Regions from separate parts of the Homo sapiens genome. Here region 2 is linked to region 1. Evidence: fine-mapped expression QTL. A gene starts in region 1. The other region holds a variant in brackets. All regions are shown on one strand. Distances are from middle to middle.

Region 1 (15,680 bases):
AAAATTAGCTGGACCTGGTGGCACGTGCCTGTAGTCCCAGCTACTTGGGAGGCTGAGGCAGGAGGATCCCGTGAACCCAGGAAGTCAAGGCTCCAGTGAGCCATGCTCACACCACTGCACTTTGGCCTGGATGACAAAGCAACATCTTGCCTCAAAACAAACAAACAACAACAACAACAACAAAAAAAAACTGAAGCTGTTGGATTGGGTTTGGCACAGTATACAGCAAGACTTCTATTTCTTGCTAAATTGGCACCTTCATTTAAATCCTTGTGGCAAAACATTTTTAACACATTCTGATTAAAAGACAAAGTATTCCTCATAGCACCTTTTCTCTCTCAAATGTAGGAAACAACAACCCCTGAACTTTACTACTTGTCTGTGCTCCTGTCGGTGAGCAGCTTAACTTCTACAGGTAAGCAAGAAAACTTCCCAAGTAACCAATCCTTGTCAAAGGCTTACCAGTCCTTCGAGGCAAGTAACTACTCAACCAGCACTGTGACTGTGATGTTGCAAGGAGAATATTAAGCTCTAGTTCCTCTTTTTTTTTTTTTTTTGAAACAGAGTCTCACTTTGTTGCTTAAGCTGGAGTGCAGTGGCGTGATCTTGGCTCACTGCAACCTCCTCCTCCTGGATTAAAGCAATTCTTCTGCCTCAGCCTCCCCAGTAGCTGGAATTAAAGGTGTGTGCCACTATGCCTGGATAATTTTGGTATTTTTAGTAGAGATGGGGTTTCGCCATGTTGGCCAGGCTAGTCTTGAACTCCTGACCTCAACTGATCCACCCGTCTCAGCCTCCCAAAGTGCTGGGATTATAGCTGTGAACCACTGTGCCCACACCCTAGTTCCTCTTAAAGCAAGAGATCCAAGAAGCTAAGAAGTATGAAAAGCAAAGCAAAGAAAACGGGGGGAGGGGAGGGTTAGGATGGCATATGAAAAGCCATCCTTCTCACGTTACTTCCACTGCATTTAATGAGATCCTATTCTTTATCCTGTAGTGCTTTTGTCAGGCCTGGGGCTGATCTGGCGGGCCAGGGTGACCTGTCGAAGGCCAGATGCTAACCCAACAGTCTGAGCCATCTGGGTCCTGTTTTTCCTGTCTGAGATACTCGTCTCTACCAGGCTGGGCCTGTCCCAGCAGCACTGCCACCTATCGGCCATCACACGACCATCTCCTATCCTGCTATTTCAGCTGAACAGCAGGGCCAATAACAGGAAGCATGTCAAAATCAGTCATTTAGTAGAAAACTGCATTATGCCAGGCGTGGTGGTTCATGCCTATAATCTCAACACTTTGGGAGGCCAAGGCGGGCGGATCACTTGAGGTCAGGAGTTCGAGATCAGCCTGACCAACATGTCAAAACCCTGTCACTACTAAAAATACAAAAATTAGCCGGGCATGGTTGCAGGTGCCTGTAATCCCACCTACTTGGGAGGCTGAGGCAGGAGAATCACTTGAACCCGGGAGGCAGAGGTTGTAGTGAGCCGAGATTGCGTCACTGCCCTCCAGCCTGGGTGACAGAGCGAGACTCTGTCTCAAAAGAAAGAAAAAGAAAGCTGCATTTAAGTATTAATGAGCACTCACTGACAATGGATAAAAAGAAACAGTTCCGCTGAAATCACAGGACTGACATCATAACCCAATTCACCCCAAATAAAGATCTCCTATCAAATACTTTCACAATGATTATTGTGATTTTCTAAACCTCATTTTTTGTTCAATGAAGTTAAGTGGCATCAGCTGGGAGACTGCTATAGAAATAAGTGCTGAAAAAGAGGAAGGAAAATAGAAATCTTAGTAATGAACAAAGGTTTAGTTTCAAAAGACCCCAGTAATTCAGATTGTGTATTTAAACAAGGTCAATTTATTGCTTCTTTAAGAATGTAGTGGGGCCGGACACGGTGGCTCATGCCTGTAATCCCAGCACTTTGAGAGGCCGAGGTGGGCGAATCACTTGAAGTCAGGAGTTTGAGACTAGCCTTGCCAACATGGTGAAACTCCGTCTCCACTAAAAAAAACAAAAAAATTATATATATACACATACATATATATATATACACACACAAAAATTAGCTGGGCCTCTTGGTGTGTACCTATAATCCTAGCTACTCGGGAGGCTGAGGCAGGAGAATCGCTTGAACCCAGGAGGTGGAGGTTGCAGTGAGCAAAGATTGCACCACTGCACTCCAGCCTGGGTGACAGAGTGAAACTCCATCTCAAAAAAAAAAAAAAAAAGCAGTGGAAGATTTTAGAGTAAAAATAACCACAACCTCCCCCTTATAGATTATAACAATCTTCTGCATCATGACAGCTAATTGTTTTCTAGAGAAAATAGCTAAGTGACCTGCATTGTGTTTTGTCTTTCTCTTTTTTTTTTTTGAGACAGAGTCCTGGTCTGTTGCCCAGGCCGGAGTGCAGTGGTGTGATTTCGGCTCGCTGAAATCTCCGCCTCCAGGGTTCAAGCGATTCTGCCTCAGCCTCCCACGTAGCTGGGATTACAGGTGCCTGCCACCATGCCCGGCTAATTTTTGTATTTTTAGTAGAGATGGGGTTTCACTATGTTGGTCAGGCTGCTCTTGAACACCTGACGTCAGGTGATCCACCTGCCTCGGCCTCCCAAAGTGCTGGGATTACAGGCGTGAGCCACCATGGCCAGCCGTGTTTTGTCTTTTTACTTCAGTGTATATTTAACAATTCCGGGCCAGACACAGTGGCTGACGCCTGTAATCCCAGCATTTTGGGAGGCCAGGTGGGTGAATCACCTGAGGTCAGGAGTTCGAGACCAGCCTGGCCAACATGGTGAAACCCCGTCTCTACTAAAAATACAAAAAATTAGCCAGGCATGGTGGCGGGTGCCTGTACCAGCTACTTAGGAGGCTGAGGCAGGAGAATCACATGAACCCAGGAGGCGGAGGTTGCAGTGAGCTGAGATGGGGCCATTGCACTCCAGCCTAGGCAACAAGAGTAAAACTCTGTCTCAAAAAAAAAAAAAAATTCTGAAGTATTTTTGTTAGGGACTAGTTACTCACAAATGGTCCCAATGTCATTAAGGACTGGATACCACTTCATTTTGAGACAGGGTCTCGCTCTATCACCCAGGCTGGAATACAATGGCACAGTCACTGCAACCTCCACCTCCCGGACTCAAGCCATCCTCCCACCTCAGCCCTTACCCCAAGTAGCTGGGACTACAGGTATGCCCCACCAGACCTGGCTACTCTTTTGTATTTTTTTGTAGAGATAAGGTTTCACTATATTGCCCAGACTGGTCTCGAACTCCTGGGCTCAAGCAATCCGCCCACCTTAACCTCCCAAAGTGTTGGGATTACGAGCATGAGCCACCTCACCTGGCCGACAACTCCATTTCTTGAGAAAAAGAACAGTACTAATGGGCAAGAAGAACGTATTCAGTATAAAATCTCCCAAAGTATCTCTGACAGGCACAGCACCTGAACACATGGAAATGACTGTTCATCTGTTCTCATCTGGAGAGGTTACCTAATATATACCCACTATCCCTTGACGCCACCAACATTTTCGGACCACCTTCCACATCCCAGACACAGCACTAAGTTAGGAATTAGAAATGCGAGCAATCACACAATAAGAATGAAATTCCTTTGAAGTAATTATATTACCATGATTAACAGAAATTATTTAGAAACAACACATTCTCTAGACCTCATCAACCACTGCAGGGCTTTGAGCAGAGGAGTGACATGATCTGACATATTTTTAAGGATCTCTCTAGCAGTTGAAGCTGAAAACAGAATGTAGGGAGAGGCAAGGGTACAAGTGAAGACATAAGATGGGAGGCTACTGCAATAATCCAGGTGACAGGTGATGCTGACCTGGCCCTGATGGTGGTAGCAAAGTGATAAGATGTCACTCAATTCTGGGTGTATTTGGAACATACAGCCAATGTGATTTGCAATGGATGGGATGTGGGCTGTGAAAGAAAGAAAAGTCAAGCATGACTCCAAAAGTTTTTGGCCTAAGCAGCTAAAAGAACAGTATTACCTTTAATTGAGAAGAGAATGATAGTGAAGCATGATGGCGTGTGCCTGTAATCCTAGCTACCTGGGACCTTGAGAGCTTGTTTGGAGGTTCTAGCAGGGGAACGCAGCTACTTATATACCCTTGACCGAAGATTAGTCCTCCTCTATTGGGGATGGTCGTTCTCTTCGACTTGAGTGTGCAGCTTCGGGAGGGATATACATGGAGCAGTGAGGGAGGAAGGAGACACCGGCCTAGCCAGCCAGATCAGCCGGATCAACCCTGGTGATCAACGGGGTGAGAGATGTCACAGCCAGGTTGCCCTCACATCCTACTTGGGAGGCGGAGGTGGGAGGATCACCTAAGTCTAGGAGTTCAAGGCTGCAGTGAACCATGATCACGCCATTGCACTCCAGCCTGGGCGACACAGCAAGACCCTGTCTCCAAAAAAAAGAGAAGAGAAAGATGTCTATGGAGTAGGCTTGAGGGGACTATCAGGAGTTCAGTTTACAGAGAAGTGAAGTTTGAGACATCTATTATATATCCAAGTGGTGACAATAAGTAGGCAAGTGGAGAACAAAGCCAAGTTCAGGGGAGAGGTACAGACATACAACAGACTAGAGATTTGGATGTATCTGCATATAGATGGTGTATTTGTCTGCTTGGGCTGTCATACTAAAATACCACAGACTGGGTGACTTAAACAACAGAAATTTACTTTGTCACCATTCTGGAGACTAGAAGCCCAAGATCAAGGTTTTGGCCAATTTGGTCTCTGGTGGCAGCTCTGTTCCTGTCTTGTACATGGCCACCTTCTTGCTAGTCCTCACATAATCTTTCTTCAGTATGTAAGGGTAAGGGGCAAGCTCTCCATTCACTCTTCTGATAAGGACACTAGTCCTATCGGATCAGGGCCCCACACTTATGACCTCATTTAACCTTAATTATTTCCTTACTCCAAATACAACCACACCTAGAGTGACATCTTTGATTCTAAAAGTTCATGTTCTCACCCATTATGCAAGACTTACAATGGTACAAGCTATTTAAGGCAGACATTTAAAAGAGGCCCAAGTGTTCAGAGAGCCTTTGGCTCCTGGTACTTCTTGTTAGCCACTCAAGTTTCATCTGTCCCAGCATTTTCCCTACCTAGTTGGAGCAACTTGCGTTCTCTGGGCTCCCATCCCAAGACCAAGCTGAAGTGTCCTCAACTCCTCCCGCTGCCAAGGAGCATTTATCTGGTTTCCCAGTGACTCCCAGTCTGGAGGTTACTTTCCCCAGTGCTGTCTCCCATGGTTTCCTACCTAACATCTTATTTCTCTTTCTCCAGTTTCTTCTCTGCCTTCTGTCTGAAGGCTTGTATTCTATTTTTGTTTCAGAATGCATTTCTCTTATGCATTAGAAATGTTTTCATTATCCATTAACTCTAAACAAGAACCTAAAGGCATATAAAAAAACCCTTAGCATAGAACTGCTGAATGACTAAGTCACAGAGAAGAAAAGGCAAATACCTCCACTGCTTCGAAGACTGCACACGCTAAAACTACACAAATGCCAGAACAGAACATTGGATTATCATTATCAAAATTAGGGGAAGGCTGGGTGGGGTGGCTCATGCCTGTAATTCCGGCACTTTGCGGGGCCAAGGTGGGAGGATTACTTGAGCCCAGGAGTTTGAAACCAGCCTGGGCAACATGACAAAACCTCATCTCTACAAAAAATACAAAAACTAGCCGGATGTGGTGGCATGCACCTGAAGTCCCAGCTACTAGGGAGGCTGAGGTGCAAGGATCACTTGAGCCTGAGAGATTAAGGCTGCAGTGAGCCGTGCTCGTGTCACTGTACTCCAGTCTGGGTGACAGGGCAAACAAAAACAAAAATTAAAAAATCAGGGAAAGTACACTGTGAACAAATGTTTATTCAGCAAATTTTTCAAATTATTATTATTATTTTTTTGAGACCGAGTCTCACCCTGTAGCCCAGGCTGAAGAGCACGATCTCGGCTCACTGCAACCTCCGCCTGCCGGGTTCAAGCAATTCTCCTGCCTCAGCCTCCCGAGTAGCTGGAACTACAGGCATACGCCACCATGCACAGCTAATTTTTTGTATTTTTAGTAGAGACAGGGTTTCACCATAGGGGCCAGGCTGGTCTCAAACTCCTGACCTCGTGATCCGCCCACCTCGGCTTCCCAAAGTCCTGGGATTACAGGTGTGAGCCACTACACCCAGCTCAAATAATTTTTTTAAAGTATATTTTCCAGTTTTGTTTTGTATGGCACTGACTCTGTCACTGTGAATTCCATTTTACCCAAAACATTGACACTTCCACACATATTTATGAATCAAAATTGAAAGATAATTGCATTAATAGGTACTTTTATTTTTTTCTTCTTTTGTTTTGTTTTGTTTTGTTTTTTTAAGACGGAGTTGCTCTGTCACCCAGGCTGCAGTGCAGCGTCGTGATCTTGGCTCACTGCAGCATTCACCTCCTGAGTTCAAGCGATTCTCATGCCTCAGCCTCCTGAGTAGCTAAGATTACAGGCATGGACCACCACGCCTGGTTAATTTTTGTATTTTTAGTAGAGATGGGGTTTCACCATGTTGGCCGGGCTGGTTTTGAATTCCTGACCTTAAGTGATCTGCCCGCCTTGGCCTCCCAAAGTGCTGGGATTACAGGCATGAGCCACTGCACCCGGCCGACTTTTGCAAAGGAAATTCTTTGAATCTGAAGTGTCTTGCAAGGTAGAGGCTATTGCAACCATTTCAACTAGTGTGTCAACAGTCTTCTCTAAGGTGGGCTAGAAAAATGGTTTCATATTCAAATTGTAACTCTGAAAAACAACTGATGGTAATAAAGAGATTCCATAATCAGACAGAACTAAGTGAAACAATTAGTTTTGGTAGAGTTCTGTGGTAATCATAGTTAGAAGTTTATCCTGGGTAGCTGAAATATAACTAACTTCAGACTCCAGGCCTGTCGGTGGCTTGTGCCAATCACCACAACACTTTGAGGGGCCAAGGCCAGAGGATCGCTTGAGCCCAGGAGTTCAAGGCTGCAGTGAGCTATGATCACACCACTGCACTCCAGCCTGGGCAACACAGCTCTTGTTTTTTAACAAGACATTGTTACTTAAAAAAAAACTGCCCTGATGAAACAATTCTACCATGAACACTGATGTTGTTCTGTGGACTACTTCAGGAAGATGGACTAAGAACATCATTAAATAGTTCCAACCAGTTTCTGGGTAATTTTATTTTTAATTTTTTGTTATGAGGGTCTTGCTATGTTGCCCAGCCTGGGCTCAAATGATCCTCCCACCGCGGGCTCTCAAAGTGCTGGGTTTACAGGTGTCACACCGCGACAGCCAAGGGTAACTTTTTTTTATTTTTATTTTTGAGATGGAGTCTCGAACTGTCGCCCCGGCTGGAGTGCAATGGCGCGATCTCGGCTCACTGTAACCTCCGCCTCCAGGATTCAAGCGATTCTCCTGCCTCAGCCTCCCGAGTAGCTGAGATTACAGGCGCCCACCACCACGCCCAGCTAATTTTTTGTATTTTTAGTAGAGACGGGGTTTCACTATGTTGGCCAGGCTGGTCTCGAACTCCTGACCTCGTGATCCGCCTGCCTCGGCCTCCCAAAGTGCTGGGATTACAGGCGTGAGCCACCGCGCCCGTCCAAGGGTAACTTTTTAAGAGCTGCCCTACAGCTCATTACCTCCTTCTCAAGGAGCATGAGTGTCAAACCACCTCCAGCAAAGTAGATGTAGTCTTTTACAGATTTGGAAAGAAGGATTTAGGAGGAAAGGGAAGTCGTTCGGAATGAAGGATTTCCTCCTCTGACGCCCAGCCGTCCCCCGTTAAGCCTAAAGGTGCCAGACCTCAAGACTCTTCTAGAAAGAGATTTTTCCTTTCCAAGGTGAATCCATCTGTTCCGAAGGTCAGAAGCTATTTTACCGAAGTTTTCCGTTCCACTGAAAAAATTAAGGGTCAATCAAAGCTCCTTGCCCCAAACCTGAATATGAGCTTGCCTCGGGTCATATTCGACTCTAAAGACTCCACCACACCATCCTGGACTCCCCTATATCTAGGACAAAAAGCGACCAGTTTCTCAGGGGCTCCTTGCGGGGAGCTTACCGCGCCCTCACTGTCCGCCGGCCCGAGTGCTACCGGAGATCACCAGCGGCCCGGACGCCAGCGAGTGGAACATCTCGGTCGCACTCTCATTGGTTCCAGGGGGCCGGAAGTGCGTGCGTCCAGCGGAAGTGCTCCCCCGGCGCGGTCCGCCAGGCCAGTGCCCTCAGGTAGGCGGGGCCCCTGGCCCTAAACTCTGGGACTGGCGGGCGGTCAGGCGGCACAGGGGGAATCCCGGGGGCCTAAGGAGGTTGTCCCAGTTTTTGTCAGGTAGGCCCGGAAGGAGTTTCGGGGACCATGGGTTTACGGCTACCTCTGGTGGCAATTGGGGCCTGTTGGAGCCCGGCCGCCGCGGGACCTACGTGCCGGACTTCAAGTTCCCGCGTGGGGTGGGATTTGCTGCGGTGGCCGGAGCTGATTCTTCACCCAGTCCTGTTGGTTCTGGGCCAAACCCTCCTCACTTTCAAGGAAGAGGCGTGCTCTCCGCCCTTACCTTTTCCAAGCCTCTGGGTTTGACGCCATCCCTCAAGGCGTGTCCGGATGCGGGATTTTCCTCAAAGACCCTCTCGGCCTCGCTAGGAAGAAACTCAGAAAGGCTGCGGTAGGCGCAGTCGAGGGGGAAAGTGCCCCCGCCCTTGATGTCTCAGGCTGCTCAAGTGGAAGTTATCTGGACTGCCTTAGGGCAAGTTTATATATAGCAAATAAAATTACTTGTTAATGGTTTCCTTTTTTCCAGCATCTCCACCCCGAGGTGGTTTGAACTTTGAGCCTTTTGTAGTCCTGATGAATAATTTCATTTTCCTCAAGTTTATGACACTCGGAACGTCAAGAACTGGAGGTTTGTGCAATTTGAGACCGGTCGGCACTGTGCAGAGATCAGAGTACTAAGAGACAGGTGAGCATGAATGAGGACCCTCCGCTCCAGATATAGTGTCTGAGAGCGGTTTCTGTAGTTTCGTAAAAGTGAAAAGTGCACCACATTTAGTGACTACTAGGTGGTGCCAACGAGTTAATCTTTCGGGGATAAATCTCAACTAATGTAGTACCAGGTTAAGGCTTTTAAAATGCACCCATTTTTACTGAAATGTATTCAGAATAGCTTTAGCTCCTTAAAATATGTTGAGCCTTTATATACGTGACCAAATTATCGACGTTCTATTCTGTATTAGGTACTGAGAAAGCTGAGAGAGGAATCAGACTCATATTCTGTTCTCCAGAGTTTAGTCAGAGGAGATAACGTATTATAATAAAATCATATATAATTAAAGGCAGAAATAAGTGCTAAATAGAGAATAAGATTTGAGCTGGGCGCGGTGACTCACGCCTGTAATCCCATCACTTTGGGAGACTGAGGCAAGTGGATCACCAGAGGTCAGGAGTTCAAGACTCGCCTGGACAACATGGTGAAACCCCATCTCTACTAAAAATACAAAAATTAGCCAGATGTGGTGACGCATGCCTGTAGTCCCAGCTACTGGAGAGGCTGAGGCAGGAGAATTGCTTGAACCCAGGAGGCTGAGGTTGCAGTGAGCCGAGATCGCGCCACTGCACTCCATCCTGGACGACAGAGCGAGACTCCGTCTCAAAAAAAATTTTAAAAAAAAAGATTTGAATGCTAAAGAAGAAGCAATCAATTCTCATTATTCATCTACCAGTTGTTTATTCGGCACTTTTTGTCTGTCCAAGATTGTGCTGGATGCTGGTGTATAAAGAAAAGGTAAAGGCCGGGTGCGGTGGCTCACGCCTGTAATCCCAGCACTTTGGGAGGCCGAGGCAGGCAGATCACGAGGGCAAGAGATCGAGACCATCCTGGCCAATATGGTGAAACCCGTCTCTCCTAAAAATACAAAAATTAGCTGGGCGTGGTAGTGCGTGCCTGTAATCCCAGCTACTTGGGAGGCCGAGGCAGGAGAATCTCTTCAACCTGGGAAGCGGAGGTTGCAGTGAGCCGAGATCGTGCCACTGCACTCCAGCCTGGCGACAGAGTGAGACTCCATCTCAAAAAAAAAAAAAAAAAAGGTAAAGGCTAGGCACGATAGCTTACACCTGTAATCCCAGCATTTTGGGAGGCTGAGGCAGGCGGATCACCTGAGGTCAGGAGTTTGAGACCAGCCTGGCCAACATGGTGAAACCTCATCTCTACTAAAAGTACAAAAATCAGCTGAGCGTGGTGGCGGGCACCTACATTCCCAGCTACTCGGGAGACCGAGGCAGGAGAGTCACTTGAACCCAGGAGGCAGAGGTTGCAGTGAACCAAGATCATGCCACTGCACTCCACCTGGGTGACCGTGAGACGCCATCAAAAAAAAAAGAAAGAGGAAAGAAAGAACGAACGAACGAAAGAAAGAAAAGGTAAAATCCCTACTTAAATAATTCACAACCTAGTGATTGGGAGGAAATCAAGGAAGACCTTGTAGAGAAGGTGACACTTGAACTAGACTTTGAAGAATGAACTGGGCTTCATAGGTAGAAAAAAAAATGCAGGCTCAAAAAAGTGCATGACATTTTTGGAACAGCAAGTCATCCAGTGTGGTTAGACTGTAGGAAACTAACTCTGAAAAGACATTGTCAGTTACATCTTGGGTTTGCCTTGACTTTTACTGGAAAATTCCACAGACTTAAGAGAAAAATTAAAATGGACAATTTCCAGGAAAAATCCACTAAACTATTATACATAAGATGTAGCTACAATAAATTACACTTCTGGGTATAATACTTGTTTATGTTTGCATATCATTAATGATCATAGATGACTTATGCCAATTTTAATAGATTAGGTAGTAATTTTTTGTCATTATATTTAATTTTGAATATACTGTAAGAATCCTCTCCAATGAAGTACACATGTCAAATCATCTGGTAATGATTTCATTATGTGTAGGAAAATAAAACATGCTTTAATGCTGTGTGCGGTGGCTCACGCCTGTAACCCCAGCACTTTGGGAGGCCGAGGCGGGCGGATCACGAGGTCAGGAGATTGAGACCATCCTGGCTAACATGGTGAAACCCTGTCTCTACTAAAAAAAATATACAAAAACTAGGCCGGGTGCAGTGGCTCACGCCTGTAATCCCAGCACTTTGGGAGGCTGAGGTGGGCGGATCACGAGGTCAGGAGATCGAGACCATCCTGGCTAACACGATGAAACCCCGTCTCTACTAAAAAATACAAAAAAAATAAGCTGGGCGTGGTGGCGGGTGCCTATAGTCCTAGCTACTCGGGAGGCTGAGGCAGGAGAATGGTGTGAACCCGGGAGGCGGAGCTTGCAGTGAGCTGAGATTGCTCCACTGCACTCCAGCCTGGGCGACAGAGCAAGACTCTGTCTCAAAACAAACAAAAAACATGTTTTAATAAGTTACCTGGAAAGTTTTGTGGTTTGTTTTTTGTTTTTTGTTTTTTTTTGAGTAGGAGTCTCACTCTGTCTCCCAGGCTGGAGTGCAGTGTCACAATCTCAGCTCACTGCAACCTCTGCCTCCAAGGCTTGGATGATTCTCCCACCTCAGCCCGCCAAGTAGCTGGGACTACAAGCACACACCACCATGCCCAGCTAATATTTTAATTTATTGTAGAGACGGGGTTTCGCCGTGTCGGCCAGGCTGGTCTGTAACTCCTGGTCTCAAGTGATCTGCCTGCCTTAGCCTCCTAAAGTGCTGGGATTACAGGTGTGAGACACCATGCCTGGCCCCAGTCAATAGGATATTTAATGAAACTTGACATACTGATTGTTAAATTCATCTGGAAGAGAAAGTGCACAAGAAGAGCCAAGAATTTTGGGGAGGAGAAAACAATAAAGGCAAGTCATTATCAGTTATCGAGATATATCAGTGATAAAGCCATAATAATGTAAATAGCAAGAAATGTTGCCTGAGGGCTGGACACAGTGGCTCATGCCTGTAATCCCAGCATTTTAGGAGGCCAAGGCCAACATGGCGAAACACTGTCTCTACTAAAAATACCAAAAAAAAAAAAAAAAAAAAAGGCAGATGTGGTGGCACACCTGTAATCCTAGCTACTCAGGAGGCTGAGGCAGGAGAATCACTTGAGCCCAGGATGTGGAGGTTGCAGTGAGCTGAGATCACATCACTGCACTCCAGCCTACTGCACTCCAGCCTGGGTGACAGAGCGATACTCTGTGTCAAAAAAAAAAGAAAAAAAAAAAAGCCAAGTGGGGTGCCTCATGCCTGTAATCCTAGCACTTTGGGAGGCTGGGGTGAGTGGATCATTTGAGGTCAGGAGTTCAAGACCGACCTGGCCAATATGGCAAAACCACATTTCTACTAAAAATACAAAAATTAGCCGGACGTGGTGGCACGCACTCAAGAGGCTGAGGCAGGAGAATTGCTGAAACCCAGGAGGTGGAGGTTGCAGTGAGCCGAAATCGTGCCACCGCACTCCAGTCGGGGCGACAGAGCAAGACTCAGTCTAAAAAAAAAAGAAGTGATTCCTTAGGAACAGAAAATTATCAATGACTAGCCAATTGCCCTAATACCCTTTACTAGTCAGTCTTTTATTTATTAATCAATATGCCACCTTTATTGTAGACCAAATTCTCCTGGATCAATAAATAAAAGACTGATTAGTAAAGGGTGTTTTTGAAAGGAAAGTTAGACCCCTACTTCAAAGCATAACAAAAAATGTTGCAGGTGGCTTTTGTCTGCAGCTAGAAAACAAAAATTTGTAAAAGTCTTGAATATAAAGATGTATAAATCTTGAGATGGTTAGGGCCTGCCTTCATGGGTCACAAAACGAAGAAGATTTAAAGGAGAAGATAGATTTGTCTATTAAAAAATAATAATTTGCCATGACAAAAAAACATAAAATTTAGTCAGGAGACGAAATAATATTTGCAATTACAAAGGCTTCATTGCTTGATCTTAGGAGGTCAAAGCTGCATGAGCCATGATCATGCCACTGCACTCCAGCCTGGGTGACAGAGCAAGACCCTGTCTCAAAAAAGCCAAAGGCTTTGTATCCATGTTATAAATCAGTAAGAGAAAGATAACCCAGCAGAAAGATGGTCACATTTCCAAAGAAGAAATTCATATTAAAAGATGTTCATCAGCTGGGCTTGTGGGCTTACACCTATAATCCCAGCATTTTGGGAGGCTGAGGTGGGAGGATCTCTTGAGCCCAGTTCAAGACCAGCTTGGGCAACATGGGAGACCCCATCTCTACAAAAAAATAAATTAGCCAGGTGTGGTGGTGTGTGCCTGTGTTTGCAGCTACTCAGGAGGCAGAGGTGGGAAGATGGCTTGAGCTCGAGAGGTTGAGGCTATAGTGAGCTATGATTGTGCCACTGTGCTTCAGCCTAGGCAACAGAGTGAGACCCTATCTCAAAAAAAAGTTCATGCTCACAAGTAATTAGGTCAATATACATAAGACCAATAAGATAATATCTGGAGTGTTTGGGGCTATAATGATTCATTTTATAAAGCAAAGTCACATTTGATCTACATATATATATATATTTCCATTTACCAAATTTGTTTAGAGTAAGATAGACCAATAATGAAGACTTCTAATTAATATGTCAAGTCACATAAAGAGGACTTTCAGGTATTTTTGTGGGGTGTTATTACTATATGAGTTTAAACTTTTATATCTAAATTAAGATTTTCTTTGTTTAACTATCTTTCATATACCTGTAGCTTTTTTTTTTTTTTTTTTTTTTTTGAGTCAGGGTCTCGCTCTGTCAACCAGGCCAGAGTGGAGTGGCAAGATCATGGCTCACTGCAACCTCAAATTCCTGGGCTCAAGCAGTCCTCTCACCTAAGCCTCCTGAGTAGGTGGGACTAGAGGCATCCGCCACCATGCCTAGCTAAGATTGTCTATTCTTTGTAGAGATGAAGTCTCACTATATTGGCCAGGCTGGTCTCGAACTCCTGGGCTCAAGCAATCCTCCCACCTCAGGCTCCCAAAGTGTTGAGATTACAGACATGCGTGAGCCACTGCACCCAGCTGCCTTTTTTTTTTTCTGAAATGTAGTCTCACTCTGTTGCCCAAGCTGGAGTGCAGTGGCGTGATCTCAGCTCACTGCAACCTCTGCCTCCCAGGTTCAAGCAAGCCTGCTGCCTCAGCCTCCCAAATAGCTGGGACTACAGGTAATTTTTTTTTCTTTTTTTTTTTTTGAGCCTGAGTCTTGCTCTGTCGCCCAGGCAGGAGTGCAGTGGCGTGATCTCGGCTCACTGCAAGCTCTGCCTCCCGCGTTCACACCATTCTCCTGCCTCAGCCTCCCAAGTAGCTGGGACTACAGGCGCCTGCCACCACGCCTGCCTAATTTTTTATATTTTTAGGAGAGACGGGGTTTCACCGTGTTAGCCGGGATGGTCTCAATCTCCTGACTTCATGATCCGCCCACCTCAGCCTCCCAAAGTGCTGGGATTACAGGCGTGAGCACCGTGCCTGGCCTTTTTTTCTCTTTAGAGATGGGGTTTCCCCCATGTTGCTCAGGCTGGTCTTGAACTCCTGACCTCAGGTGATCCACCCACCTCGGCTTCCAAAAGTGCTGGGGTTACAGGCGTGAGCCACCACATCCGGCCTTTTTTGTATTTTTAGTAGAGATGGGGTTTCACCATGTTAGCCAGGATGGTCTTGATCTCCTGACCTTGTGATCCACCCGCCTCGGCCTCCCAAAGTGCTGGGATTACAGGCCTGAGCCACCGGCGCCTGGCCGCAGCTGCATATTTTTAATTGCACTAGGGACTGGGTGTGGTGGCTTATGCCTATAATCCCACCTCTTTGGTAGTCCAAGATGGGAGGGTCACTTTAGGCCAGATGTTCCGAGACCAGCCTGGGCAACATAGTGAGACTCTGTCTCTACAAAAAATAAAACTTAAAAAAATTGCACTGGTATGTTAATTTCATATGGTATGTGGGTTTATTGTTTCACATAGAGATTAAAATGGCTTCCAGAGGAAAGACAGAGACAAGCAAATTAAAGCAGAATTTAGAAGAACAGTTGGATAGACTCATGCAACAATTACAAGATCTGGAGGAATGCAGGTAAGAGTTTAATTGTATGTTGTTATGCTGGAAACTGGCGTTTTTTCTGCAGCTAGCTCCGTGGATGCAGGCCCATGTGTGATGATTCTGCATTCCCCTGTAGTGTTCTTTGCAGTGCTTTGTCTATTAGAGAAGTAAACTTATTGCAGGCTTTGGAGTCATAAAGGCTGGGAAATGAAAGTCATTCAGTTAACTACTAAGTGCATGTGAACTTGAGCAAAATACTTACCTTCCTTGAAGTAGAAATAACACCTACTTTGTCTTTAGTATTTAAATCAGTCCTACCTGCTGTCAGGCTAAGAAGGTACTACTTGAACTTCTGGCATGTAGTTTCAGCCTTACCTGCACAAAGGACCACAACAGTTCATTGCAGCTTTTTTTTTTTTTTTTGAGACAGAGTCTTGCTGTATTGCCCAGGCTGGAGTGCAGTGGCGAGATCTCAGCCCACTGCAACTTCTGCTTCCCAAGTTCAAGCGATTCTCCTGCCTCAGCCTCCCGAGTAGCTGGGATTACAGGCATGCACCACCATGCCCGGCTAATTTTGTATTTTTAG
Region 2 (15,680 bases), 72 kb before region 1:
TGTAATCCCAGCACTTTGGGAGGCCGAGGCCGGCAGATCACGAGGTCAGGAGATCGAGACCATCCTGGCTAACATGGTGAAACCCCGTCTCTACTAAAATAAAAAAATTAGCCCGGCGTGGTGGCAGGCGCCTGTAGTCCCAGCTACTCGGGAGGCTGAGGCAGGAGAATGGTGTGAACCTGGGAGGTGGAGCTTGCAGTGAGCCGAGATCACGCCACTGCACTCCAGCCTGGGCAACAGAGCAAGACTCCGTCTCAAAAAAAAAAAAAATACTAATTTTAAAAACTCTGTAGCCAGCCTACAGTATTATGTTATAGCAGCCTGAACAGATTAAGAGAGGGAAGGGTCCAGGCTCAGTGGCTCACGCCTGTAATCTTTATGTTGCCCAGGCTGGTCTCAAACCCCTGGCTTCAAGTGATCCTCCTACATCAGCCTCCCAAAGTGCTAGGATTACAAGTGTGATCTTTAAACACATACTAACTTGGCTGGGTGAGGTGGCTCACGCCTGTAATCCCAGCACTTTGGGAGGCTGAGGCAGACAGATCACGAGGTCAGGAGATCAAGACCATCCTGGCCGACATGGTGAAACCCCGTCCCTACTAAAAATGCAAAAATTAGCCGGGCATGATGGCATGTGCCCGTAGTCCCAGCTACTCAGGAGGCCAAGGCAAGAGAATCGCTTGAACCCGGGAGGCAGAGGTTGCAGTGAGCCGAGATCATGCCACTATACTCCAGCCTGGGCAACAGAGCGAGACTCTGTCTCAAAAAAAAAGGAGTTGAGATCAGCCTGGGCAACATGGTAAAACCCCATCTCTACTAAAAATACAACAATTAGCCAGGTGTGGTGGCGGGCGCCTGTAATCCCAACTACTTGGGAGGCTGGGGCACAAGAATCCCTTGAACCCTGGAGGCGGAGGTTGCAGTGAGCCAAGATTGCACCACTGCACTTCAGCCTGGGTGACGGAGCGAAACTCCATTACAAAAAAAAAAAAGACTGTTTTGCAAACTCTCCTAAAGATTGCACCCAGAAGTTATAATGAAATCCTTATGAGCAGGTCGAGGAAATATCAAAAGCAAAACTCTTATCTGTGGAGAACCGAAGACTCTTAAGGGCAAGAAACTGAGGGAAAATAATCTGCTACAAAAGGTCTCAGGAAATAAAGATTCTTGCTGTGGACAGAAACAAAGAGAATATTAAAAAGTATTCATTATAGGCCAGGCACAGTGGCTCACGCCTGTAATTCCAGCACTTTGGGAGGCTGAGGCAGGTGGATCATGAGGTCAGGAGTTCGAGACCAGCCTGGCCAACATAGTGAAACCCCCATCTCTACTAAATACACAAAAATTAGCCGGGCGTGGTGGCCCATGCCTGTAATTCCAGCTACTCAGGAGGCTGAGACAGGAGAATCGCTTGAGCCTGGGAGGCGGAGGTTGCAGTGAGCCAAGATCACGCCATTGCACTCCAGCCTGGGTGACAAGAGCAAGACTCCATCTCAAAAAATAAAGTATTCATTATAAATATATTGACTGAATTTCACTGTCTGAGACTCCATATGAAAAGGCTAGGCCGGGTGCAGCGGCTCATACCTATAATCTCAGGACTTTGGGAGGCCGAGGCAGATGGATTGTATTAGAAACGGCAACCAAGAGACATATTAATTCATTTTTAAGATAAGCCTATTACATGCAGAGTGGCCTTGTTTGACATTTTTGCAAATCTCTTTAATGTCTGGCTTAATAGAAGACAGCTGAATTCTCAGATGTACTTCTGGGTCAGGTCAGTTGTGATGTGGCCTGGCAGGAAGTCTCTGGAAAACTCCCATATGCTCATGAGAGAGAGAGAATGAAGAGCAAATATCATCTCAGGATTATTATGAAAATAGCTTTGATCTCACAGATACCCTTAAAAGGTCTCGGGATCCCCGGGTCCTCAGATCACGGTTTGAGAACACTGTCCATTGGGGGCATAATCCATTTGCCATCAGTTTGTCACATACCTCCAGCAGGCCAAGGTGGGCAGATCACCTGAGGTCAGGAGTTCGAGACCAGCCTTGCCAACATGGTGAAACCCCCTGTCTACTCAAAATGCAAAAATTAGCTGCGCGTGGTGGCAAGTGCCTGTAATCCCAGCTACTTGGGAAGCTGAGGCAGGAGAATCCCTTGAACCCAGGAGACAGAGGTTGCAGTGAGCTGAGATTGTGCCACTCCACTCCACCCTGGGTGACAGAAAGAGACTCTGTCTCAAACAGAAATAGAAAAAAAAGAAAAAGAAAAAGAAAAGCCTATAAAATAATAGTTGTCAGCACATGGTCTCTAGGGAACTTTTTGGAGTGATTGACTTGTTCTGAAACTGGATTGTAGGAATGGTTGTACACCTATGTACATTTACTAGAAATTATCAAATTGTACACTTAGGTGCATTTTATGGTACATAAAATATACCTCAATAAAGCCATTAAAGAAAAACAACTCAAGTCCAACAGAGTCCAAAAGTAAAAAAAGAAAAAGAAAAACTCCAAGAGTCATATTCCAAAAAATTAAATTTTTATTACAAGGGGCCACACTTGTAATCCGAGCATTTTGGTAGGCTGAGGTGGGTGGATCACTTGAGGCCAGGAGTTGGAGACCAGCCCAACCAACATGGCGAAACAAAAATACAAAAATACTAAAAATACAAAAATTAGCTGGCCATGGTGGTGGTGCACACTTGTAATCCCAGCTACTAGGGAGGCTGAGGCAGGAGAATCACTTAAACCCGGGAGGTGGAGGTTGCAGTGAGCGGAGATTGCACCACTGCACTCCAGCCTGGATGACAGAGTGAGACTCTGTCTCAAAAAATATATATATATTAAAGCAGAATTGAAATGCTATTTCTCCTCCTCTTCCTCTCCTCCCTTCCTCTCCCTTTTTCCCCCCCTTTAAGGGCATCCAAAGTATGTGGATCATGGAAGTGCCTGCTTTGAAGATCTTTCTTTGCTAAGGATGAAGCTTCCAAGCTGGTTGTGCTGAAGGGCCAACATCTGGTAGTAATTTCATGAAAGGATTTTTTTTTTTTTGAGATGGAGTTTCACTCTTGTTGCCCAGGCTGGAGTGCAATGGCATGGCGCTATCTCTGCTCACTGCAACCTCTGCCTCCCGGGTTCAAGCAATCCTCCCCCCTCAGCCTCCTGAGTAGCTGGGATTACAGGAATCTGCCACTTTGCCCGGCTTTTGGTATGACCTAGAAACTTGTTTTTTGTTACAATACTTCTCAGTGTCAGAATAATATATATTGAATTCATCACTCATTTTTATGGTTGTTTCATATTCTCAGGACCTAGTAATAATAATAATAGTGAACTTCCAGGAATATATACTGAACCGAATTCAATCTAAGCAATTATGATTAAATACTTGTAAAAGTTAACTATAGTAAACCTCAGAGAAGATAGCCTCTTGCTTTTTTTTTTTTTTCATAGAGATAGGGTTTTGCTCTGTTGCCCAGGATGAAGTGGAATGGTGCGATCATGGCTCACTGTTGCAACCTTGAGCTCCTCAGACTACAGGGATGTGTCACCATGCGTGGCCAGCCCCCTGAGACAGGGTCTTGCTCTGTTGTCCAGTCTGGAGTGCACTGGCACAATCTTGGCTCACTGCAGCCTCAACTTCCTGGCTTAAGCTATCCCCTCACCTCAGCCTCTGGAGTAGCTGGGACTACAGGCATGGACCACCACACCCAACTAATTTTCTATTTTTTGTAGAGACGGGGTCTCAGTATGTTGTTCAGGCTGGTCTCCAACTCCTGGGCTCAAGGGATCCTCCTGCCTCAGCCTCCCAAAATGCTAGGATTACAGGTGTGAGCCACCATGCCCAGCTACCTCTTGTATTTTGAAATGACAAAAAGACCTTTTACATATTATATTTTCTCACTTGTTTTGTTCTACCATTCCTAAATGTCTTTCCAAACTGTAGTTTGTATCATGTAGTAAAGTTTAATGAAATATATATTTGGTCTTTTTCCCTGGTTCTGGCACAGGGCTCCTAAATTCCTTGGAATTTCCTGAGTGATAGGATTGTCTTTTGCTATTCATAAGGAGCCCCTTTAGAACACACCAGAGTCTATGCTAATGATGTGACTCAGGGTTGGGGCTGCTCACCAGAAAGACCAAATTAGAGGACTTTGATTAGAGGGTGGAAACAGCCCCACCCCAACCTCCTGGGAGGGAAGGGGGCTGGAGATGGAGCTCTATGAAAACTCCTGAACAAGGAGGTTCAGTGAGCTTCAGTACCAGTGGAGGGTGTCCAGGTTTTTGGCATTTTGAACAAAGAATTTAACAAGGGCCAGGTGCGGTGGCTCACGCCTGTAATCCCAGCACTTTGGGAGGCCGAGGCGGGCAGATCACGAGGTCAGGAGATTGAGACCATCCTGGCTAACATAGTGAAACACTGTCTCTACTAAAAATACAAAAAATTAGCCGGGCGTGGTGGCGGGTGCCTGTAGTCCCAGCTACTCGGGAGGCTGAGGCAGGAGAATGGCATGAACCTGGGAGGCAGAGGTTGCAGTGAGCCGAGATCACGCCACTGTACTCCAGCCTGGGTGACAGAGCAAGACTCCATCAAAAAAAAAAAAAAAAAAAAAGAGTTTAAGAAAACACACAACCAAGAAAAAAATGAAACAACAAAAGCAGAGAGTTATTGAAAATGAAAGTACATTTCACCAGGTGGGAGCGGGCCCCAGCAGCCACTCAAGGGCCCTGGATACAGAATTTTCTCCAGTCCAAATACCCACTAGAGGTTTCCCATTGGCCACTGGGTGTTCACCCATGTAAATGAGGTGAAGTAGTGGCCTGTAATCAGTCCGATTGGTTGCGGAAAGCAGAGGTGGGCGGATGATGAGGTCAAGAGATGGAGACCATCCTGGCCAACATGGTAAAACCCCGTCTCTACTAAAAATACAAAAATTAGCTGGGCGTGGTGGGTGCTAATGCTAATGCATTATAATTAGTGTATGATGAGCAGTGAGGAAGACCAGAGGCCACTCTCATCACCATCTTGGTTTTGGTGGGTTTTCCTGGCTTCTTTACCACAACCTGTTTTATTAGCAAGGTCTTTGTGACCTGTGTCTTGTGCTGTCCTCCTATCTCATCCTGTGACTAAGAATGCCTTAACCTTCTGGGAATGCAGCCCAGTAAGTGTGGGGGAATCACCTGAACGCAGGAGGTGGAGGTTGCAGCAAGCCGAGATGGTGCCACTGCACTCCAGCCTGGGCAACAGAGAGAGACTCTGTCTCAAAAAAAAAAAAAGGCAATTAATTAATTAATTAGAGGTACTTACAATTTCCCATCTGCCACAGAAAAGGTAGGGGTTTGCAAAGGGGTAGCCTCTGGTCCTTTTGTTACTTAGGCTTGGAAAGTTAGGATTTTCTTTTCAATTTAGTTCTAGGAAGTCAGCCCAAAACAGCCTTAGGTTCCCTGCCTCCAGACCCTGGTCTCCTGCCTCAAACATATCCACGCACTGCAAGGGTGGTGCACCTGCAGAGGGCAAGGAAGCTCCGCAGCCCCCCACTAAACCTTGTCCCATGCATCTCCTCCATTTGGCTGTTCCTGAGTTGTATTCTTTTTTTTCCTTTTCTTATTTATTATTTTTTTTTTTGAGACGGAGTCTCGCTGTGTCGCCAGGCTGGAGTGCAGTGGCGTGATCTAGGCTCACTGCAACCTCCACCTCCTGGGTTCAAGCAATTCTCCTGCCTCAGCCTCCTGAGTAGCTGGGACTACAGGCGCCCACCACCATGTCCAGCTAATTTTTGTATTTTTAGTAGAGACGGGGTTTCACCATGTTGGCCAGGATGGTCTGGATCTCTTGACCTTCTGATCCACCCGCCTCAGCCTCCCAAAGGGCTGAGATTACAGGTGTGAGCCACCGCTCCTGGCCAGAGGAAGAAATTCTTACCAGCCAAGTTTCTGGTCTCTCTCTCTCTGTATATGTTGTGTAAACGGTAAATGCCACTATTTGTCTTCTCTGCGAGGGTCTGATTAGTAGAAAAAAAGGATTTGTCAGACCAGTCTTAGGCTGTAGCAAATCTGGTGTACTTTATGCTAAGAATTTGTCTTTCTTTGTTGTTCTGTAATGAAGAGGGGAGTATCAGGGGATAGAACGTGGGTTTAGGATGCCTATAAGCCAAGTTTTCAAGCCAGCCCATCAGGCTGGTCATTTACAAATGTTGCTATGGGTCCCTGAAACCAATGCCAAATGACATTTCTCTGCCTTGTTTTGTGTCCATAAGAGCTTAACCTTGTGGCCATGTGGGGATACTTTATCTTGGTTTCTGCCATCTAGAGGACAGGAATTTTGGGGTTCATGTCATAGTTAGCCCTAAAAATTATCTTGAGCAGGCCGGTCGCGGTGGCTCACACCTGTAATCCCAGCACTTTGGAAGGCCGAGGCGGGTGGGTCATGAGGTCAGCAGATCAAGACCATCCTGGCTAATATGGTGAAACCCTATCTCTACTAAAAATACAAAAAAATTGGCCAGGCGTGGTGGTGGGTGCCTGTAGTCCCAGCTACTCGGGAGGCTGAGGCAGGAGAATGGCGTGAACCCGGGAGGCGGAGCTTGCAGTGAGCCAAGATCACGCCACTGCACTCCAGCCTGGGCAACACAGCAAGACTCTGTCTCAAAAAAAAAAAATTATCTTGAGCAGTTAAGAGCCTTTGAAATCTTGAATTTGGCTAGACTTCTTCTGGGAATAGCAATAGAAACTGCCCAGGGCTGGGTGCGGTGGCTCATCCCTGTAATCCCAGCACTTTGGGAGGCCAAGGTGGGTGGATCACAAGGTCAAGAGATCGAGACCATCCTGGCCAACCTGGTGAAACCCATCTCTACTAAAAATACAAAAATTAGCTGGGCGTGGTGTCACACACCTGTAGTCCCAGCTACTCAGGAGGCTGAGGCAGGAGAATCACTTGAACCCAGGAGGCAGAGGTTGCAGTGATCCGAGTCTGTGCCACTGCACTCCAGCCTGGCAACAGAGTGAGACTCCGTCAAAAAAAAGAAAAAAAAAAGAAGGAAACTGCCCAATGCTGTGTAGCTCAGTAGCTAAGGCTTTGTCCTTTGACAAGGGTGATCTGGGTTGAATTCTTGGCTTCTGGAATGATTCCTTTCTGGTTTGTTATTTGTGTAACTTTGCCATTATTAAGGTTATTTTTCCCCCCATAGATAGCTTCTGATTTCCTGTCTTGGATTTTCTTTTCTCTAAGCTACCCTTGGGGAGATTCTAAATGTTGTTTAAAAAAAAAAAAAAAGAGGAACTGCTGGCCAGGCACGGTGGCTTATGCCTGTAATCCCAACACTTTGGGAGGCCAAGGTGGGTGGATCACCTGAGGTCAGGAGTTCGAGACCAGCCTGGCCAACATGGTGAAACCCCATCTCTACTAAAAATACAAAAATTAGCTGAGTGTGGTGGCACATGCCTATAATCCCAGCTACTTGGGAAGATGAGGCAGGAGAATTGCTTGAAGCCAGGAGCCAGAGGTTTCAGTGAGCCGAGATGGAGCCACTGCACTCTAGCCTGGGTGACAGAGCAGGACTCTGTCTCAAAAAAAAAGAAAAGAAAAGAAAAGAAAAGAAACAAAATCACCATCCCAGACCCCTGTCAATATCACCATCTGCCCATCCCTCAAAGTCATCTGCCCCCCACCCCCAGAGCTCTGGTGGCTGTTCAGGTTGCTTGTTTTGGCCAGCTTCCTCACTAGCCTTGAAGGCAGGACTGACAGCTTGTTCACTGGTGTGTCTCTCATGTGCCTAGAAGACTTTCAAATATTTTTTTAAATGCTGGGATTTCCTAAATCGGAAAGGAAAAACTTCAGAGTCATTTGGACAGGTTTATTGAAGCTGAGCAGTTTCCCCATAATCTAGATGACTTCAGGTTACACGCTGTGTGGCTCTCTCCAGCCACGAGTCCTCGTCGCCAAATGGGATAGATAAACGTCTGTTCAGTCTGCAATATAATTTGGCATAAAGCTGCAGCCACAAGTGGGCTCTGCTGCTGGATGTGGATCAGGCTCTCTGGAATGTCTGTTTGCACACTTGACCTTCACAGAACATTTCCTAGGGCGTAAGGAGGAAGGGAAAAAGAAGGATCAGTTTGCATGTGGTCTGTTTTTACTCTCAACACTTATTTTTTATTGTGTTTTAACCCTTTTCTGGAACATGTTTTTTTCTTTTATGAGATGGGGTCTCACTCTGTCGTCCTGGCTAAGTACAGTGGTGAGATCTCGGCTCACTGTAACCTCTGCCTCCCAGGCTCAAGCGATCCTCCCACCTCAGCCCCCAAAGTAGCTGGGACACTGCAGGCACGTGCCATCATGCCCGGCTAATTTTTGTGTTTTTTGTAGGGACAGGGTTGCCACTGCCTAGGCTGGTCTTTTTTTTTTTTTTTTT[G/TG]AGATGGAGTCTCACTCTGTAGCCCAGGCTGGAGTGCAGTGGTGCAATCTTGGCTCACTGCAACCTCTGCCTTTAAGCGGAATTGCCTTCAAGCAATTCTTCTGCCTCGGCCTCCTGAGTAGCTAGGATTACAGGTGTGTGCCACCATGCTCTGCTAATTTTTGTATTTTTAGTAGCGACGGGGTTTCACCATGTTGGCCAGGCTGTTCTTGAACTCCTGACCTCATGATCTGCCCGCCTCAGCCTCCCAAAGTGCTGGGATTACAAGCATGAGCTACTGCGCCTGACCCCTAGGCTGGTCTTGAACTCCTAGCCTCAAATGATTTTCCTGCCTTGCCCTCCGAAAGTGCTAGGATTATAGTTATAAGCCACCACACCTGGCCTACTCTCAACACTTCTGACACCAAAGGTGTGGGTTTTTAAACGCCTGACACCAGTTGTGTGATGTCTTTTCCAGTCCCACTTCTCCAACTCTCTGACACCAACCAAGTGTCCAGTAAGCCAATTTAATTTGGGCACTAACTACCCAGAGTTAGCACAGACTGCATAGGTTAAGGATGCAGTCTCACGAGACTCCCCCCAGCTTCAGACACCTGTCGCAAATTTGGGACCTCCCATATTTCTGACTGACCAGCTACAAATCAGGTTTTCCCACAACCCCTCCTCGGGCTTGATAATTTGCTAGAAGGGCTCACAAAACTCAGAAAGTCCCTTTACTTACTATTACCAGTTTATTATAAAATAAACAACTCAGAAACAGCCTGATGGGGCCGGGCGCACATGCCTGTAATCCCAGCACTTTGAGTGGCCGAGGCGGGCAGATCGCCTGAGATCAGGAGTTCTAGATCAGCCTGGCCAACATGGCAAAACCCTGTCTGTACTAAAAATACAAAAATTAGCCGGGTGTGGTGGTGCATGCCTGTAATCCCACCTACTCAGGACACTTGAGACAGGAGAATTGCTTGAACCCAAGAGGCGGAGGTTGCAGTGAGCCAAGATTGCGCCACTGCACTCCAGCCTGGGCAACAGAGCAAGACTCCATCTCAAAAAAAAAAAAAGAAAAAAGAAAGAAAAGAAAAGAAAAGAAACAGCCTGATGGAAGAGACGCATAGGGCAAAGTAGGAAGGGGGAGCACACAGCCCTCCCAGCACCTCAATGTATTCACCACACACATGAATGTTCACCGTTCAACATGGAAGCTCTCTAAACCCCGTGGTTTAGTTTTTAGTGGATGTTTCAGCACATAGGCATGACTGATTAAGTCAATGGCTATTTGTGATTAGTTCAATCTCCAGCCCCTCTTCCCTCAGGGATGAGGCTGAAAGTTCCAACCCTCTAATCATGCCTTCGATTTTCTGGTGACCATCCCCCATCCTGAAGCTATCTAAGGACCCTCAGTAGACAGTCATGTCGTTAACACACAAAAGATCTTTTTTTTTATTTGGAGACAAGGCCTTACTCCTTTTTTATTTGGAGACAGGGTCTTACTCCTTCGCCCAGGCTGGAATGCAGTGGTGCAGTCATGGCTCACCTTAGCCTCAACTTCCTGGGCCTAAGTAATCCTCCCACCTCAGCCACCCAAGTAGCTGGGACTACAGGCACCCATCACCATGCCCAGCTAATTTTTTTTAATTTTTTGCGACGGAGTCTTGCTCTTGTTGCCCGGGCTGGAGTGCAATGGCGCGATCTCGGCTCACTGCAACCTCCACCTCCTGGGTTCAAGTGATTATCCTGCCTCAGCCTCCTGAGTAGCTGGGACTACAGGTGCCCGCCACCACACCCGGCTAATTTTTGTATTTTTTAGTAGAGACAGCATTTCACCATGTTAGCCAGGCTAGTTTCCAACTCCTAACGTCAGATGATCCACCTGCCCCGACCTTCCAAAATTCTGGGATTACAGGTATGAGCCACTGCCCCCAGCCAATTTTTTGTAGAGACAGAGTCACACTATGCTGCCCAGGCTGGTATTAAACTCCTGGACTCCAGTGATCCTCTTGCCGTGTCCTCCCAAAGTGCTGGGATTACGGAAGTGAACCACCACACCCAGCAACCAAATATTTTTTAATATATCATGGTGGCTGGGCGCGGTGGCTCATGCCTGTAATCCCAGCACTTTGGGAGGCTGAGGGGGGTGGATCACCTGAGGTCAGGAATTTGAGACCAGCCTGACCAGCATGGTGAAACCCTGTCTGTACTAAAAATATAAAAATTAGCTGGGCATGGTAGCGGGCGCCTGTAATCCCAGCTACTTGGGAGGCTGAGGCAGGAGAATCACTTGAACCCAGGAGGAGGAGGTTACAGTGAGCTGAGATCAAGCTACTGCACTCCAGGATGGGCGACAGAGTGAGACTCTGTCTGAAAAAAAAAAAAAAAATCATGGTAAGTAAGAAGCATTCCATGAGTATCCTTAGAACAAAAGTACTTCTGTGCCCTGCATGGGCAGATTTCCAGGGTATGCTAGAGAAGGATGTACACATTTGGTATTTCTCTTTTTTTTTTTTTTTTTTTTGAGACAGTTTCACTCTTGTCATCCAGGCTGGAGTGCCGTGGCGCGATCTTGGCTCTTGGCTCACTGCAACCTCCTCCTCCCAGGTTCAAGTGATTCTCCTGCCTCAGCCTCCCGAGTAGCTGGGATTACAAGTGCCTGCCACCACACCAGGCTAATTTTTGTATTTTTAATAGAGACGGGGTTTCGCCATGCTGGCCAGGCTGGTCTCGAACTCCTGACCTCAGGTGATCCACCTGCCTCGGCCTCTCAAAAGTGCTGGGATTACAGGTGTGAGCCACCATGCCCAGCCTTCCTTTTCTTTTTTTTTTTTTTTAAAGACAGGCTAGTCCTACGTTCCCCAGGCTTGACTCAAACTCCTGGGCTCAAGCAATCTTCCCGCTTTGGCCTATCCAGTAACTGGAACTACAGGCAAGTACCACCACACCCAGCTGTTGTGCATAATTTGAACATTACCTCTTACAAACCAACTAATCTAAATCCTCAAACATATGTATATATTCTTTGAAATTCCATATTACGTATTTGCGAAGGCAAGTTTCTTACTTTGTTTTTTTTTTTGGAGACAGAGTCTTGCTGTATCCCCCAGGCTGGAGTGCAGTGGCATGATCTTGGCTCACTGCAACCTCTGCCTCCCGGGTTCAAGCGATTCTCATGCCTCAGCCTCCTGAGTAGCTGGGATTACAGGTGCCTGCCACAGCCCGGCTAATTTTTTTTTTTTTTTTTTTTTTGAGATGGAGTTTCACTCTTGTTGCCCAGGCTGGAGTGCAATGGTGCAATCTCGGCTCACCGTAACCTCCTCCTCCCAGGTTCAAGTGATTCTCCTGCCTCAGCCTCCTGAGTAGCTGGCATTAGAGGCATGCGCCACCACTCTCAGCTGATTTTTTTTTTAAATATTTTTTAGTAGAGACGGGAGTTTCTCCATGTTGGTCAGGCTGGTCTCAAACTCCCGACCTCAAGTGATCCACCCACCTTGGCCTCCCAAAGTGCTGGGATTACAGGCATGAGCCACTGCGCCCGGCTCCGCCCAGCTAATTTTTGTATTTATAGTAGAGATGGGGTTTCATCATGTTGGCCAGGCTGGTCTCGAACTCCTGACCTCAGGTGATCCGCCTGCCTCAGCTTCCCAAAGTGCTGGGATTACAGGCGTGAACCCGTAATCCCATGCCTGACCTCTTACTTTTTTATCGTCAGAAGAGTGTGAGATTTGTCCATCTAGAATCAAAATATCTTCAAGGCCTTGGTATTCAAAGACTACCCAGACCCAACTTTAAGGACAGTGCTCTAGTTTTGTTCTCATGGGTCTCACCTAGATTTCACACATACAGTGAGGCAAAAAAGCACAGAGCTGAGAGCACACATTCTTGTCAGACCTGTATTTGAATCTTCACCCTACAGTGTGAAAATACGTAATTCACAATCAAAGCTGATGAAACTTTAAATTATTTTGAGTCTTAAAGGAATGTGATTGTGGGACCTGAGTCATGTGAAAGGCCGCTGTAACCTAGACAGCTATAACCTTAATTTCTCTGGTTATAGATTAGCCTTTTTCTTTACCTACACTGTTTTGTAAAAAACTAAAGGGCACCAGAGAAGACTTCCCTCTACTGTTGATCTTAATTACAGACTCACTTCCCTGTTTCTTCTCTCTTTTTTTTTCCCAAAGCAGGTGAACCTCTTCCTTCTCTAATACAAAGACAGATGACTATCACGTTGTCTAAGATGGAATGTTAAATATACTCTTAAGATGACAGCAAGAATGAGGGGGAAGAAAAATAAAATAAAGAATGTTAAATATATTCTTTAAACTGGAAAGAAAAAGGAAAAAACTGAGTGGTAACTAATCAAATTCCTGTAACTCATAAAACAGCTTTGTATAGAAAATGTTGTAATCCTGCGAAATTTCTTTGTTTTCTGTCTGTCGGGTGGCTCACGCTTGTAATCCCAGCACTTTGGGAGGCCAAGGCGGGCAGATCACCTGAGGTCAGGAATTCGAGACCAGCCTGGCCAACATGGCAAAACCATGTCTCTACTAAAAATGCAAAAATTAGCTGGGCATGGCCGGGCATGCTGGCTTACACCTATAATCCCAGCACTTTGGGAGGCCGAGGTGGGCGGATCACCTGAGGTCGGGAGTTCAAGCCCAGCCTGACCAACATGGAGAAACCCCGTCTCTACTGAAAATACAAAATTAGCCAGGCGTGGTGGTGCATGCCTGTAATTCCAGCTACTTGGGAAGGCTGAGGCAGGAAAATCGTTGAACCCGGGAGGTGGAGGTTGTGGTGAGCCGAGATCGCACCATTGTACTCTAGCCTGGGCAACAAGAGCGAAACTCCGTCTCAAAAAAAAAAAAAAAAAATTAGCTGGGCATGGTGGCGGGTGCCTGTAATCCCAGCTACTTGGGAGGCTGAGGCAGGAGAATCCCTTGAACCCAGGAGGTGGAGGTTGCAGGGGGCCGAGATTGCGCCACTGCACTCAAGCCTGGATGACAGAGGGAGACTCTGTCTCAAAAACACAAACAAAAACAGGCCAGGCACAGTGGCTCACGCCTGTAATCCCAGAACTTTGGGAGGCAGAGGCGGGTGGATCACCTGAGGTCAGGGGTTTGAGACCAGCCTGGCCAATATGGTGAAACCCTGTCTCTACTCAAAATACAAAAATTACCCAGGTGTCGTGGCATGCACCTGTAGTCTCAGCTACTTGGGAGGCTGAGACAGGAGAATTGCTTGAACCCAGAAGGCAGAGTTTGCAGCGAGCTGAGATCATGCCACTGCACTCCAGCCTGGGCAACAGAGCAAGACTCCATCTCAAAAACAAAACAAAACAAAACAGGCTGTAAAATAATAGTTGTCAGCACATGGCCTCTAGGGAATGTTTTGGAGTGATTGACTTGTCTGAAACTGGATAATGGGAATGGTTGTACACCTGTATACATTTACTAGAAATTATCAAACTGTACACTTAAAACAGGTGCATTTTTTGGTACATAAAGTATACCTCAATAAAGCCATTAAAGAAAAACACCTCAAGTCCAACAGCTTAAAAGTAAAAGAAGAAAAAGAAAAAGAAAGGAAAAGAAAAACTCCAAGAATTACATTCCAAGAAATTAAATTTTTATTACAAGCGGCCACGCCTGTAATCCCAACACTTTGGGAGGCCCAGGTGGGCTGATCACTTGAGGTCAGGAGTTCGAGACCAGCCTGGCCAATATGGTAAAATCCCGTTTCTGCTAAAAATACAAAAACTAGCTGGGTGTGGTGGTGCATGCCTGTAGTCCCAGCTACTCGGGAGGCTGAGGTGGGAGGATCGCTTGAACCCAGGAGGCAGAGGTTGCAGTGAGCTGAGATCACACCACTGCACTCCAGCGTGGGTGACACTGGGTGACAGAGGGAGAGACTCCATCTCAAAAAAAAAAAAAAAATAAGACATTAACTTTTCAGCTTGGGTGTACTGACCCCATTTCTTTGGAGTCTGTGTTTCCTGGGTGGCCATTCTCATCTTCATGCCTGAATAAACCCTTATTTTGTTTTATTTTTTTTTGAAACGGCCTCTGTCACCAGGCCGTAGGGCAGTGGTGCGATCTTGGCTCACTGCAACCTCCGACTAACTGGTTCTAGCAATTCTCCTGCCTCAGCCTCCCAAGTAGCTGGGATTACAGACATGTGCCACCATGCCCAGCTAATTTTTGTATTTTTAGTAGAGACGGGGTTTCACCATGTTGGCCAGGATGATCTTGATCTCCTGACCTCGTGATCCGCCCACGTCAGCCTCCCAAAGTGCTGGGATTACAGGCGTGAGCCACCTCGCCCAGTCTGAATAAACCCTTTTAAACTGGATTCTGATGCTTCTGACAGCAGCCTTGGGGAATTTCAAAATCCCAATTTATTTGTGAATGGGAAAAATGGCGTCCTTTTCACAGGGTTGTGAAGATTAGATGAGATAATGCACTCAAAGGATTGAGCACAGTAATTGGGCCCAAAATAATCACTCCAAAGATGTGAGCTACTATATCTATCTATGCATATCTATGTATACATAAAGTAGCTATTACATATAATAGGTAAGAATTGTTCCATGAGTATTTGCATGTTATCTTCCTGCCTCTGTCGGAATATTCGGCTGTTTCATTTAATATAAGATGAGAGTGAGTATAGGCATGCGCCACTATGCCCGGCTAATTTTTGTATTTTCAGTAGAGATGGGCCAGGTGTGGTGGTGGCTCATGCCTGTAATCCCAGCACTTTGGGAGGCCGAGGCGGGTGGATCATGAGGTCAAGAGATCGAGACCATCCTGGCCAACATGGTGAAACCCCGTCTCCACTAAAAATACAAAAATTAGCTGGGTGTGGTGGTGCGTGCCTGTAGTCCCAGCTACTCGGGAGGCTGAGGCAGGAGAATCGCTTGGACCCAGGAGGTGGAGGTTGCAGTGAGCCGAGATCGCGCCACTGCACTCCAGCCTGGTGACACAGCGATACTCCATCTCAAAAAAAAAAAAAAAATAGTAGAGATGGGGTTTCACCATGTTGGCCAGGCTAGTCTCCTGACCTCAAGTGATACACCCACCTCGGCCTCCTAAAATGCTGGGATTACAGGTGTGAGCCACCACGCTTGGCCTGATGTTTCCTTTAATACTGTATCATCTCATTAAGAACAAAATGTGGTGGATACCAGGTGGAGTTTGTCTCCTTCGATCCAATGGGTCCAGCCTCTGTTCTTCTTTTCTCCCTTCTGGATACAGGTGAGCCTGTCATTGTCCCA

Direction of the effects. Positions count from the first base shown, and alleles are read on the strand shown. Sizes are in standard deviations (SD) of each study's normalised expression.
In carriers of allele TG in region 2, the expression in monocytes of the gene that starts at base 8,255 in region 1 tends to be lower than with G alone (moderate effect, 0.47 SD a copy in Quach 2016).

The links. PIP is the estimated chance that this variant, and not a neighbour inherited with it, causes the effect.
Region 2: its variant is fine-mapped to the expression of LZIC in monocytes (Quach 2016, PIP 0.95).

The regions. Positions count from the first base shown.
Region 1 is chr1:9,935,966-9,951,645 of GRCh38, reverse strand. LZIC (leucine zipper and CTNNBIP1 domain containing) reads left to right here and starts at 8,255. Exons shown (of 8, transcript NM_032368.5): 1 at 8,255-8,397; 2 at 8,864-9,022; 3 at 15,019-15,127. The coding sequence starts at 15,027. It overlaps NMNAT1 (nicotinamide nucleotide adenylyltransferase 1), which reads right to left and starts at 8,171. Exons shown (of 5, transcript NM_022787.4): 1 at 8,131-8,171. It also overlaps the pseudogene RN7SKP269 and the pseudogene TMEM274P. RefSeq lists enhancers at 8,086-8,655, 7,923-9,122, 8,656-9,226, 11,821-12,321, 12,322-12,822.
Region 2 is chr1:10,008,185-10,023,864 of GRCh38, reverse strand. It overlaps RBP7 (retinol binding protein 7), which reads right to left. Exons shown (of 4, transcript NM_052960.3): 3 at 15,591-15,680; 4 at 7,844-8,083. The coding sequence ends at 8,033. Among named protein-coding and RNA genes, the nearest start is that of UBE4B, 17 kb to the left of the region's middle. The variant G/TG (reference allele first, on the strand shown) is at 8,417.